Regions from separate parts of the Homo sapiens genome. Here region 2 is linked to region 1. Evidence: fine-mapped expression QTL. A gene starts in region 1. The other region holds a variant in brackets. All regions are shown on one strand. Distances are between the middles of the regions. Region 1 holds the start of GRIK5 (glutamate ionotropic receptor kainate type subunit 5). Region 2 overlaps GRIK5 (glutamate ionotropic receptor kainate type subunit 5).

The links. PIP is the estimated chance that this variant, and not a neighbour inherited with it, causes the effect. A credible set is the group of variants that fine-mapping cannot tell apart.
Region 2: its variant is the best candidate, but not a certain one, in a credible set for the expression of GRIK5 in whole blood (TOPMed, PIP 0.77).

The regions. Positions count from the first base shown.
Region 1 is chr19:42,067,132-42,072,639 of GRCh38, reverse strand. It overlaps GRIK5 (glutamate ionotropic receptor kainate type subunit 5), which reads left to right and starts at 2,434. Exons shown (of 20, transcript NM_002088.5): 1 at 2,434-3,399. It also overlaps a transcript of ZNF574 not described here.
Region 2 is chr19:42,008,705-42,013,704 of GRCh38, reverse strand. The region is part of intron 15 of GRIK5 (glutamate ionotropic receptor kainate type subunit 5); the gene reads left to right. Among named protein-coding and RNA genes, the nearest start is that of ATP1A3, 17 kb to the right of the region's middle. The variant C/T (reference allele first, on the strand shown) is at 2,424.

The DNA.
Region 1 (5,508 bases):
AGCCAAGATGGCGCCATTGCACTCCAACCTAGGCAACAAGAGCGAAACTCCATCTAAAGAAAAAAAAAAAAGAAAGAAAGAAAAAATAAAAGAAAAGAAAACCTGGCCGGGTGCAGTGGCTTGCGCCTGTAATCCCAGCACTTTGGGAGGCCGAGGCAGGCAGATCACGAAGTCAGGAGATCGAGACCATCCTGGCTAACATGGTGAAACCCCGTCTCTACTAAAAATACAAAAAAAGTTAGCCGGGTGTGGTGGTGGGCGCCTGTAGTACCAGCTACTCAGGAGGCTGAGGCAGGAGAATGGTGTGAACCCAGGAGGCAGAGCTTGCAGTGAGCCGAGATCATGCCACTGCACTCCAGTCTGGACAACAGAGCGAGACTCCATCTCAAAAAAAAAAAAAAAAGAAAAGGAAAAAAAAAGAAAATTTGAGGATCCAGGTAACTTCTCAGGCCTTTTGCTTGGACTTCTCAACTTGATTTGGGTGGTGCAGGTCTCTTTTCTCCAGATCATATAGGAATAAGCTGAGGATAAGCTGAGGTCTTTCTGGAGGTGGTAGTGCAGGACTGGCTGGGATTTCCGGGACAGGTTGAATTTAGAGGGGATGGTGGTTGGTTTTTGTTTTTTGTTTTTTTTTTGGAGATGGAGTCTCGCTTTGTCTCCCATGCTGGAGTGCAGTGGCATGATCATGGCTCACAGCAACCTCTGCCTCCTAGGTTCAAGCAATTCTTGTGCCTCAGCCTCCCAAGTAGCTGGGACTAAAGGAGTGTGCCACCGGGCCTGGCTAATTTTTGTATTTTTAGTAGTGACGGGGTTTTGCCATGTTGGCCAGGCTGGTCTTGAACTCCCAACCTCAGGTGGTCCACCTGCCCCGGCCTTCCAAAGTGCTGGGGTTACAGGAATGAGCCACCGCCCTGGTCGAAAGGATGGTGTTCTGTGTTGAGGTCCTTCATAAGCAAAGTCCCAGAGGCAGGTGTGAATCTGGGCTTTTAGGCCTGACTGGAGTTAAGTGTGGATGTTTGAGGGGGCGGTGTAGATGTTGACCAAGTGGGGTAAGGAGGTGTGTGCAAAGTTGGTGGTCCTTCAGCGTCAGATATATGTGTCAGATGTGTGTCCAGGATGCCCCACATGCCAGCTTGCAGAGGGCTTCCTGTGCTGGGCTGGCATGTGGTCCAGGAGTTGCCATGTGCCAGCTGTGTGTTCGAGGCATGCGGTCACATATGCTGTGGGCCGCACGTGAGTGTGTCAGTGTCTCCTCCCCATCACGAGCATCGGGGGTGGTGGTGAGTCACGGGCTCAGCCTTCGGCGCCAACTGTCATGTTTCTTCCCCCCAAATTTCACCCCCCACCCAGCCATGCACCACCCACCCCCACTCCAAGATCTGTGTCGCTTCTCTCTTCCATCCCCCTGTCCTGCTCAGCTCCTTCTGAGAGGCTGCAGGGTGTTCCCTGGGAAGGAGTCTCCCACTTCTGGCTCTGCCCTCCAGCTTCCTCTCCTTGTCCCATCCACCTTTCCCACTGCCTCTCTGCTCCTGTGACTAGAGAATGAGGGCCCCTTCTCTCCACCCACTCATCTCTGTGGGTCCCAAGGATTTCTCTGTGCACTATAGGGAATTCTCATACTCACCACCCATCCCCTCACCTCTATAGGAGCTATTTATATTGGGGGAGGCTTGCCCCGCATCTCCAGGCTGGCAGCTCCTGCCTCAGTGGCTCTCTTGTGTCTATGAGCCACATCCTTGTCTTTTTGGTACCCTGGTGTCTGTAGGCCTCCCTTGTTTCTGTGACCTTCTTCGGCTCTCCTTGGCTCTCTCCCTGCCCTGTGGACCGCTCCCCATATCTGAGGAGTGCTTTCTGTTTCCAGGGGCCTCTCTCTTGTGTCTCTGGCTTCTCCCGTTTTCCTTCGCGGGAGGTCTCTATGTCCACATTACTGCCCCTTGTCTCCGAGGTCCTTTTGCTTGTCTCTGTAGGCTGCTCCCTTGTCTCCATGGGCCTTTCTTTCTTATCCCTGGGCTTTTCCTGTCCTTGTCCTTGTGGGGTTTGTGGGCCTCAGCCCACTTCTCTGGACAGTCTTGACGGCTGTCTCTCTTCTCTTCATTTCTCTTCATCTCTGTAGCCCTCTCCCCTCATCTCAGTGGCCTTCTCCCTGGGTCTTCTTGCCTCTCATCTCTGTGGGCTCCTGTGCCCAGGGCTGCCTGGGCAGGGCGGTGGCATGGTGTGGTAGAGGGGGTGGCTCGGGGGTGGGCCTTCCATCCAATGCAGCTCCTTCTTCTCATCAGCATTCTCCTCGCGGGGGGCCCCCAGCCCCAACCAATACAGGCTCCCCCTCCCCCGACTCACCTCCCTACTCTCTCTTTGCCTGCCTCCCTCCCTTCCTCCTGCCCGCCCTCCTCCCTGCCTCCCTCCCTCCCTCTTCTCTCTCTCCTGAACCACCCCACTGCGCTCCAGGACCCAGCGCAGGCGGCAGGCGGGCAGGCAGGCGGCGGCCTCGGAGGGGAGACTGAGCGGTGGCGGCAGCCAGCGGCAGGGAGGCAGGCCCAGCCGGGGACTGGAGCCGGGGACTGGAGCCGGCTCCTCACAGGGGACCAGGAGTGTGTCGCCAGGCCCTCCCACTGAGGCCCAGCACCGGGAGCCCCTGGGACACCCCACCCTCCTCCGCCTTTCTCTTCCACCTGCTCCTCTCCATCCTCCTCTCCCTCCTCCCTATCTCTCCACCTCATTTGCCCCCTTCTTGGCCTCTCCGGGTCTCCCAGCTCTCCATCCTCCCCAGCTCTCCACTCCCGGGCTCTCCCCGCCCCCAGCATGCTTTTCCCGTGGGGGCTGAGGGCTTGAGGACTCCGGGCCCTTGCCTCAACCAGGGCAGGGCCCAGGCTCCAGGGGGGAGGGGGAAAGGGGGCGGCCCCCTCCCCCAGCAGGCCCTCCCCTCCCCCACTTCTCCTGATGGCCGGCTTCCTTTTCTCCACCCAGTCCTCGCCCCCTGTGGCCCCCCCAGGCCGGCCCGGCTAGGGGAGGGGGCGGGGGCCCTTTCCTGGGCCAGCTTCCCCCTCCCCCGGCTTTGCCTGTGCCCCCCCCTTCCGTTTTCACCTTCCTCTCCTCCTTTCCTCCCTCCTTCCCCTCCATTTGCTCCTTCCCCCTCTCCTCTCTCCCCTTCTCTCCTCCATTTTCTCCTTTCCCCTTCCTCCCCTCCCCGGCCCGCCCTCTCCTCTTCCACCTGTCCTTCCTCCCTGCTCCTGTGGAGCCACCGTTTTGGATTAGTTGGGAGCCACCACCGGCGGCGGGGGAGGGGGCCCTGTGGACTGCCCTCTCCCCCCGCCCAGCCCCACCACCACCCAGCGCCAGAGCACCTCCCGCTGTCGGTCTTCGGGCCTCGAGGGAGCCCAGCCCTCCGTCCCACCAGGATCCGTGAGTGTCTGCAGGGCAGGGATTGGGCTGGGTTCTGGGTCCTGGAAGGCTGGGCTCTGGTGCCGCCTGGCAGGGGGGCACCACATTCTCCCCGTTCTCCGGACTGGCAAGTACCCTCCCCCACTAGGGGCCTGCTCTGCGCCCTCCATCTCCTCAGCGTCCATTCACCTCGACCTCTTCTCACCTCTTCTTCTGGGTACATAGCTCACTGCCGCCCCTGGCCCTCTAGCTTTCTGGGGTCCTACGGGGCTGATTGCTCTTACTTGGGCTCTCACTTACCCCGGGCCCCTGGCATGTCCGTGCCCCTGCTGTCTCCAAGCCTCCGTCCTGGTCCCAGACTGGCTCTTTCTGTTCCTCTGAGCCTCATCCTCTGCCTGCGGTGGGCCTTGGCCCTGTCCCCACCCCGTCCAGTCTCTATCTCCTGGATATGTCTTTCCGCTTTTGAGCCCCCATTTCCTGTGTCTCTTGGGCCCCTCTCTGACTCTGCCCAACTTCTCTCTTTGCTGTTAGCCCAGGTTGCTCTCGGCATGTCTCTGTTTAGATCCCTCTCTCTGTCAGAACTCCTCCACCCTGGCTTCCCTCTTTCCAAGTCTCCCTCGGCAGGTCTCTTTCCATTTCTCTTTCTATTCTGTGCCTCCGCTCACCTGTCCTCCTCCCTCTCTCTGCCTCTGAGCTTGGAGGCTGTCTTCCCTCTGTCACTTTTCCACCTCTTTCCCCCAGATCCACTCTGGGTGCCCGGCTCCTCAGTCCCTCCCTCCTCAGCTGCTGCCCCACCTCTCCGTGGTCCATGCTGACTTTTCCTGGCTGGTCTGGCTCTTTCCACTCCCATTCTCTCTCCCGACTTCTGTGTTACCTCGCGTGGCCTTTCTGCTCCCATTCCTCTCCATGTCTGGGGGCTTTCAGGCCCCAGGATCTCCTGCTCCCCCACACGGCATTCCTGAGTGTCTTGGGGTGGCTATGCCTCTGTGTGGGTCTGGCCTCTCCTGCAGGTGCTTGCCCTGTCCCTGCCTGTGCCCCTCTAGTGCACTCACTCCATCTCCCCACCTCAGTTTCCCTCCCTGACTCCCCCTTTCTCTCTCCCAGGTGCTTTTCCCCCTTGCCCCTTCCTCTTCTATGGGCCTGTCGTGCAGCTCCGACATACTGTCTCTCTTTCCGACTGGCCCTCTCTCTTTGTAGAGTTTGGCCATTTCTTTCCTTCTCCCAAGTCTTGTACCTGCTGCTGTTTCTTTATCTCCCTTTGCCTTCTCCCTCACCCTGTGTGCCTTCGCTGGCCCTCCTTGCCTCTCACCTTTGCTGATGTCTCTCCTATGCCCACTGTTGCTCAGCTCTCTGCTGGGTTTTGACTTTTATCTGGCTTTGCCCAGTCTCTGGGGCTGAGTCCTGGACCTGCCTGACACCCTACCTGCCCTGTCTCTGTCTCCTTTGCTGTCTCACTTCTAGGCTGTGTCTGTCTCTTGCTCTCTCACTTAGCCTCAGTTCCTACGTCTTGGGCTGTCTTTCTGTGTGTATCTCTGTGTCCACCTGCTGCCCCTCAACCCTGTCTTTCTCTGTCTGCTCCCACCTTTGGCTGCCACCTGTGGGTCCCTGTCCTTCTGTCCCATCTCTCCCTCGGTCTTTCTGTCCTTTGTCCTCTGCTCCCTGATTTGCCCCAGGAGTCCCTGGTGTCTCAGGATGACCCACTCCACTCCTGCCTCTCTCCTAGCTCCGCCCTTCACACTCCTCCCACTCTGAGCGCTCCTCCGGGTCTCCCAGCATCCCTTGTGCCTCCATCCTTGACAAGCCTTCACCTTAATCCACATTATAGTTTGCAGTCCCCAGCCTGTCCAGCATACCCTCCCACCTAGCACTCTCTTCTTCTCAGAGGCCTAGAAGGCAGTGACTTGCTCAAGATCACGCAGTGAGTCAGGGGCAGAGCTGGGACTGATCCCCAGCCTAGGTTTTGCAGGCCACTTGAGATGGTGAGAAGGACTTGTGCCTCTATCCTTCCCTCGAAGTTCTCATTCCACAGTTTCACCAGCTCAAGCTGTCCTTCCATGGGGACTGAGTGGGGTCCGGTGTCCAGGCCCACTTCACAGCATTCTGTGCCCCCCACAGTAACCCTACTCCATG
Region 2 (5,000 bases), 59 kb after region 1:
GGCGCGGTGGCTCACGCCTGTAAGCCCAGCACTTTGGGAGGCCGAGGTGGGCGGATCACGAGGTCAGAGGATCGAGACCGTCCTGGCTAACATGGTGAAACCCTGTCTCTACTAAAAGATACAAAAAATTAGCCGGGTGCGGTGGCGGGTGCCTGTAGTCCCAGCTACTCCGGAGGCTGAGGCAGGAGAATGGCGCGAACCTGGGAGGCGGAGCTTGCAGTGAGCCGAGATCGCCCCACTGCATTCCAGCCTGGGCGACAGAGCAAGACTCCATCTCAAAAAAAAAAAAAAAAAAAGAAAAGAAAAAAAGAAAAAAAAAGATGTTTTTAAATATTTATCTTTATTTTTATTTTTTTAAAGACAGGATCTTGCTCTGTCTCTAGGCTGGAGTGCTGTGTGTTTATAGCTCCCTACAGCCTCAAACTCCTGGGCTCAAGGGATCTTCCTGCCTCCGCCTACTGAGTAGCTAGGACTACGTGCCTGGCTAATTTTTTATTATTTTCATTTTTTTTTTTTTGTAGAGAGTTCTTACTTTGTTGCCCAGGCTGGTCTTGAACTCCTGGCCTCAAGCGATCTTCCTGCCTCAGCCTCCCAAAGTGCCGCGATTACAGGCATGAGCCACTGCTCTGGCCCTAAGTAAATATTTTGTACTTTGTTGATCATATGGTCTTTGTTCCAGCTACTCAATCTTCCATTGTAGTATAGAAGCTGTTGTAGATGATACATTAAATGAATGAGTGTGGCTGTGTTCCAATAAAACTTTATTTATGGATACTGACACTGAAATTTGAATTTTATATAAGTCATGTGTCATAAAATATTCCTTTTTTTTTTTTTTGAGGCAATATCTCACTCTGTTGCCCAGGCTGGAGTACAGTGGTACAATCTTGGCTCACTGCAGCCTCAACCTCCCAGGCTTAAGGAATCCTCCCACCTCAGCCTCTTGAGTAGCTGGAACCACAGGCACGTGCCACCCAGTCTGGCTAACTTTTTGTAGAGATAGGGTTTCGCCATGTTGCCCAGGCTAGTCTCAATTCCTGGGCTCAAGCGATCCACCCACCTTGGCCTCCCAAAGTGCTCGGATTATAGGTGTGAACCACTGCGCCCAGCCTGTTCTTCTGATTTCATTTTAACCATTTAAAAATGTGAAAACTGGCCGGGCGTGGTGGCTCATGCCTGTAATCCTAGCACTTTGGGAGGCCGATGCGGGCGGATTGCCTGAGCTCAGGGGTTCTAGACCTACCTGGGCAACAAGGTGAAACCCCATCTCTACTAAAATACAAAAAATTAGCCAGGCGTGGCAGTGTGCGCCTGTAGTTCCAGCTACTCGGGAGGCTGAGGCAGGAGAATTGCTTGAACCTGGGAGGCAGAGGTTGCAGTAAGCTGAGATCGTGCCACTGCACTCCAACCTGGGCAACAGAGAGAGACTCTGTCTCCAAATAAATAAATACATACATACATACATACATACATACATACACATACATGTATATATACATATACATATATGTATATGTAAAAGCCATTCTTAGCTTATGGGGCTGTACAAAAATAGACAGCAGGTCAGATTTGGCCTGTGGGCCATAGTTAGCCAGCCGCTGGTTCAAACCAATTACCCTTAATGTAATTACTGATATGGTTAGGTTTAAATCTACCAACCTGCTATTTGTCCCATCTGTTCTTTGTTCCCCTTTTCCTCTTTTTCTACCTTTAGGGGGTTACTGGGACTTTTCTTTTCTTTTCTTTTTGAGACAGGGTCTCACTCTGTCACCCACGCTGGAGTGCAGTGGCACGAACACGACTCCTGGGCTCAAGCCATCCTCCTGCCTCAGCCTCCTGTGTAGCTAGGACCATAGGTGCGCTCTACCATGCCCAGCTAATTTTTTAAATTTTTTGTAGAGACCGGATCTCACTTCATTGCCCAGGCTGGTCTCAAACTCCTGAGCTCAAGCAATTTGCCCACCTTGGCCTCCCAAAGTGATGGAATTACAGCGTGAGCCACTGTGCCTGGCCTGTTGGGATTTTCAAGATTCTGCTTATCTCTACTCTTGACTTGTTAACTGTACTTCTTTGTTTTATTTTTCTTAGTGGTTTTCTGGGTTTGCAATATGGATCTTTAATTTATTACAAAATACTTTTTTTTTTTTTTTTTGAGACGGAGTCTCGCTCTGTCCCCCAGGCTGGAGTGCAGTGGCGCGATCTCGGCTCACTGCAAGCTCCGCCTCCCGGGTTCATGCCATTCTTCTGCCTCAGCCTCCCGAGTAGCTGGGACCACAGGCGCCCGCTACCACGCCTGGCTAATTTTTTTGTATTTTTAGTAGAGACGGGGTTTCACCATGTTAGCCAGGATGGTCTCGATCTCCTGACCTCGTGATCCTCCTGCCTCGGCCTCCCAAAGTGCTGGGATTACAGGCGTAAACCAC[C/T]GCACCCAGCCACAAAATACTTTCAAGTAACATTATACCATTTCACGTAAGATATAAGACCTTGACAACATGATATGTTCCTCTCACCCTCCCGTCCTTTGAGCTCTGCATATCTTATGAACCCCACAATACATTAGGGGTGTGTGTGTGTGTGTGTGTGTGTGTTAGATAGTAAATGCTGGGTGTGGTGCTCACGCCTGTAATCCCAACACTTTGGGAGGCCGAGGCTGGAGGATTCCTTGAACCCAGGCGTCCAACACCAGCCTGGCCAACATAGCGAGACCTCATCTCTACAAAAACTAAGAAACATTAGCCAGGCATGGTGATGCATGCCTGTGGTCCCAGCTCCGTGGGAGGCTGAGGTGGGAGAATTGCTTGGGTCCAGGAGGTTGAGGCTGCAGTGAGCTGTGTTCACGCCTCTCCACCCTAGAGCAGGACCCTGTCTCAAAAACAAAACCAAACCACTAAATGCTTCGTAAGGAAATTTGAAAGTGAGGAATATATCTTTTCTATTTACCCACAAATCTACCATTTGAAGAGGGTGCCCTTCACCCCTTCTGGTACATCCACGTTTCTATCTGGTGTTGTGTTTCTTTTACCTGCAGAACTTCCTTTAATATTTCTTGCTGTGCGGGTCTGCTGGCAATTAATTCTCCCAGCTTTGGTTTTGTATGAAAAATGTGTTAGTGTGTCTTCTTTGAGGGATATTTTTGCCTGCTGTGGAATTCTAGGTTGACAGTTTGTTTTGATTTTTCTTTCAGCATGTTGCATCATCTTTGGGCTTGCACACTCTCTGACAAGAAGTCGACTGGCACTGTTATCTTTGATTCTCTGAATGTAATATGTTTCCCCCCTTCTAGCTGCTTTTAAGATGTTTCTCTTTATTGCTGGTTTTCAGCAATTGATTATAATGTGTCTTGGTGCGTTTTATAAATATGTGTGTTTAGCCTACCTGGGGTTTATGGAGCTTACATCTGCAAGTTTATGGTTTTCATCAAATTTGAAAAGTTGTAGGCCATTACTTCATCAGACTTTTTTTTGGTTATCCCTTTCTCTCCTCTCTTTCTGGAACTCCAGTCACATAGGTAAAGCCACTTATTTCTCAGGCCATTGAGGCTCTGTGCTCATTTTCATCACTTTTTCCTTTCTGTGCTTTATTTTGGATAGATTCTATTGCAGTTCTTCAAATTCTCTAATCTTTTTTTTTTTTTTTTTGAGATGGAGTTCCACTCTTGTTGCCCAGGCTGGAGTGCAGTGGCGTGATCTCAGCTCACAGCAACCTCCACCTCCTGGGATCAAGCAGTTGTCCTGTCTCAGCCTCCCAAGTAGCTGGGATTACAGGCGTGCACCACCATGCTCGGCTAATTTTGTATTTTTAGTAGAGATGGGGTTTCTCCATGTTGGTCAGGCTGGTCTAGAACCCCTGAGCTCAGGCAATCCGCCCCCATCGGCCTCCGAAAGTGCTAGAATTACAGGCCTGAGCCACTGTGCCTGGCTTTTTTTTTTTTTTTTTTGAGACAAAGTCTTACTCTGTTGCCCAGGCTGGAGTGCGGTGGCACAATCTGAGCTCACTGCAACCTCTACCTCCCAGGTTCAGGCAATTCTCCTGCCTCAGCCTCCTGAGTAACTGGGATTACAGGCATGCACCACCACACTTGGCTAATTTTTGTATTTCTAGTAGAGAAGGGTTTTCGCCATGTTAGTCAGGCTGGTCGCAAACTCCTGAACTCAGGTTATCCTCCCTCCTTGGCCTCCCAAAGTGCTGGGATTACAGGCGTGAGCCACCGCGCCCAGCCTTTTTTTTTTTTTTTAAAGATAAGGTCTCAGCCTGGCCAACGTGGCAAAACCCCATCTCTACAAAAAATACAAAAATTATCTGGGCATGGTGGCGGGTGCCTGTAATCCCAGCTATTCAGGAGGCTGAGGCAGGAGAATCGCTTGAACCCGGGAAGCGGAGGTTGCAGTGAGTCGAGATCGCGCCATTGCACTCCAGCTTCAGCTTGGGACAGAGCGAGACTCTATCTCAAAAATAAATAAATAAATAAAATAAAAAAATAACGATAAGGTCTCACTTAGTCATTCAGACTAGAGTGCAGTGACGACCAGGCTCAGTGTAGACTTAAACTTCTGGCCTCAAGTGATCCTCCCACCTCAGCCTCTCAAGTTGCTGGGACTGTAGGCAGGCACCACCACACCCATCTAATTTTTTTATTTTTCTGTAGAGACAGGGTCTGGCTATGTTGACCAGGCTTATCTCAAAGTCCCAGCCTCAAGTGATCCTCCTGCCTCGGCCTCCCAGTGTGCTAGGATTACAGGCATGAGCTACTGTGCCTGGCCCAAATTCCCTCATCTTTTCTGCTGCCGGTGTCTAATCTGTGTAATCCCTTTCAGTAAAATTTTTCTTTCAGATATGTGTATATCATTCTCTAAAAGTTCTGTTCACTTCTTTTTATATCTTCTGTTCCTTTCATTACGTTCATGTTTTTCTTTATACTCTTGAGCATTCTGAATGTATTTATAATAGCTGTTTTCATGTCCTTGTCTGCTAATTCCGTCATCATCTATGTCAATTCTGGG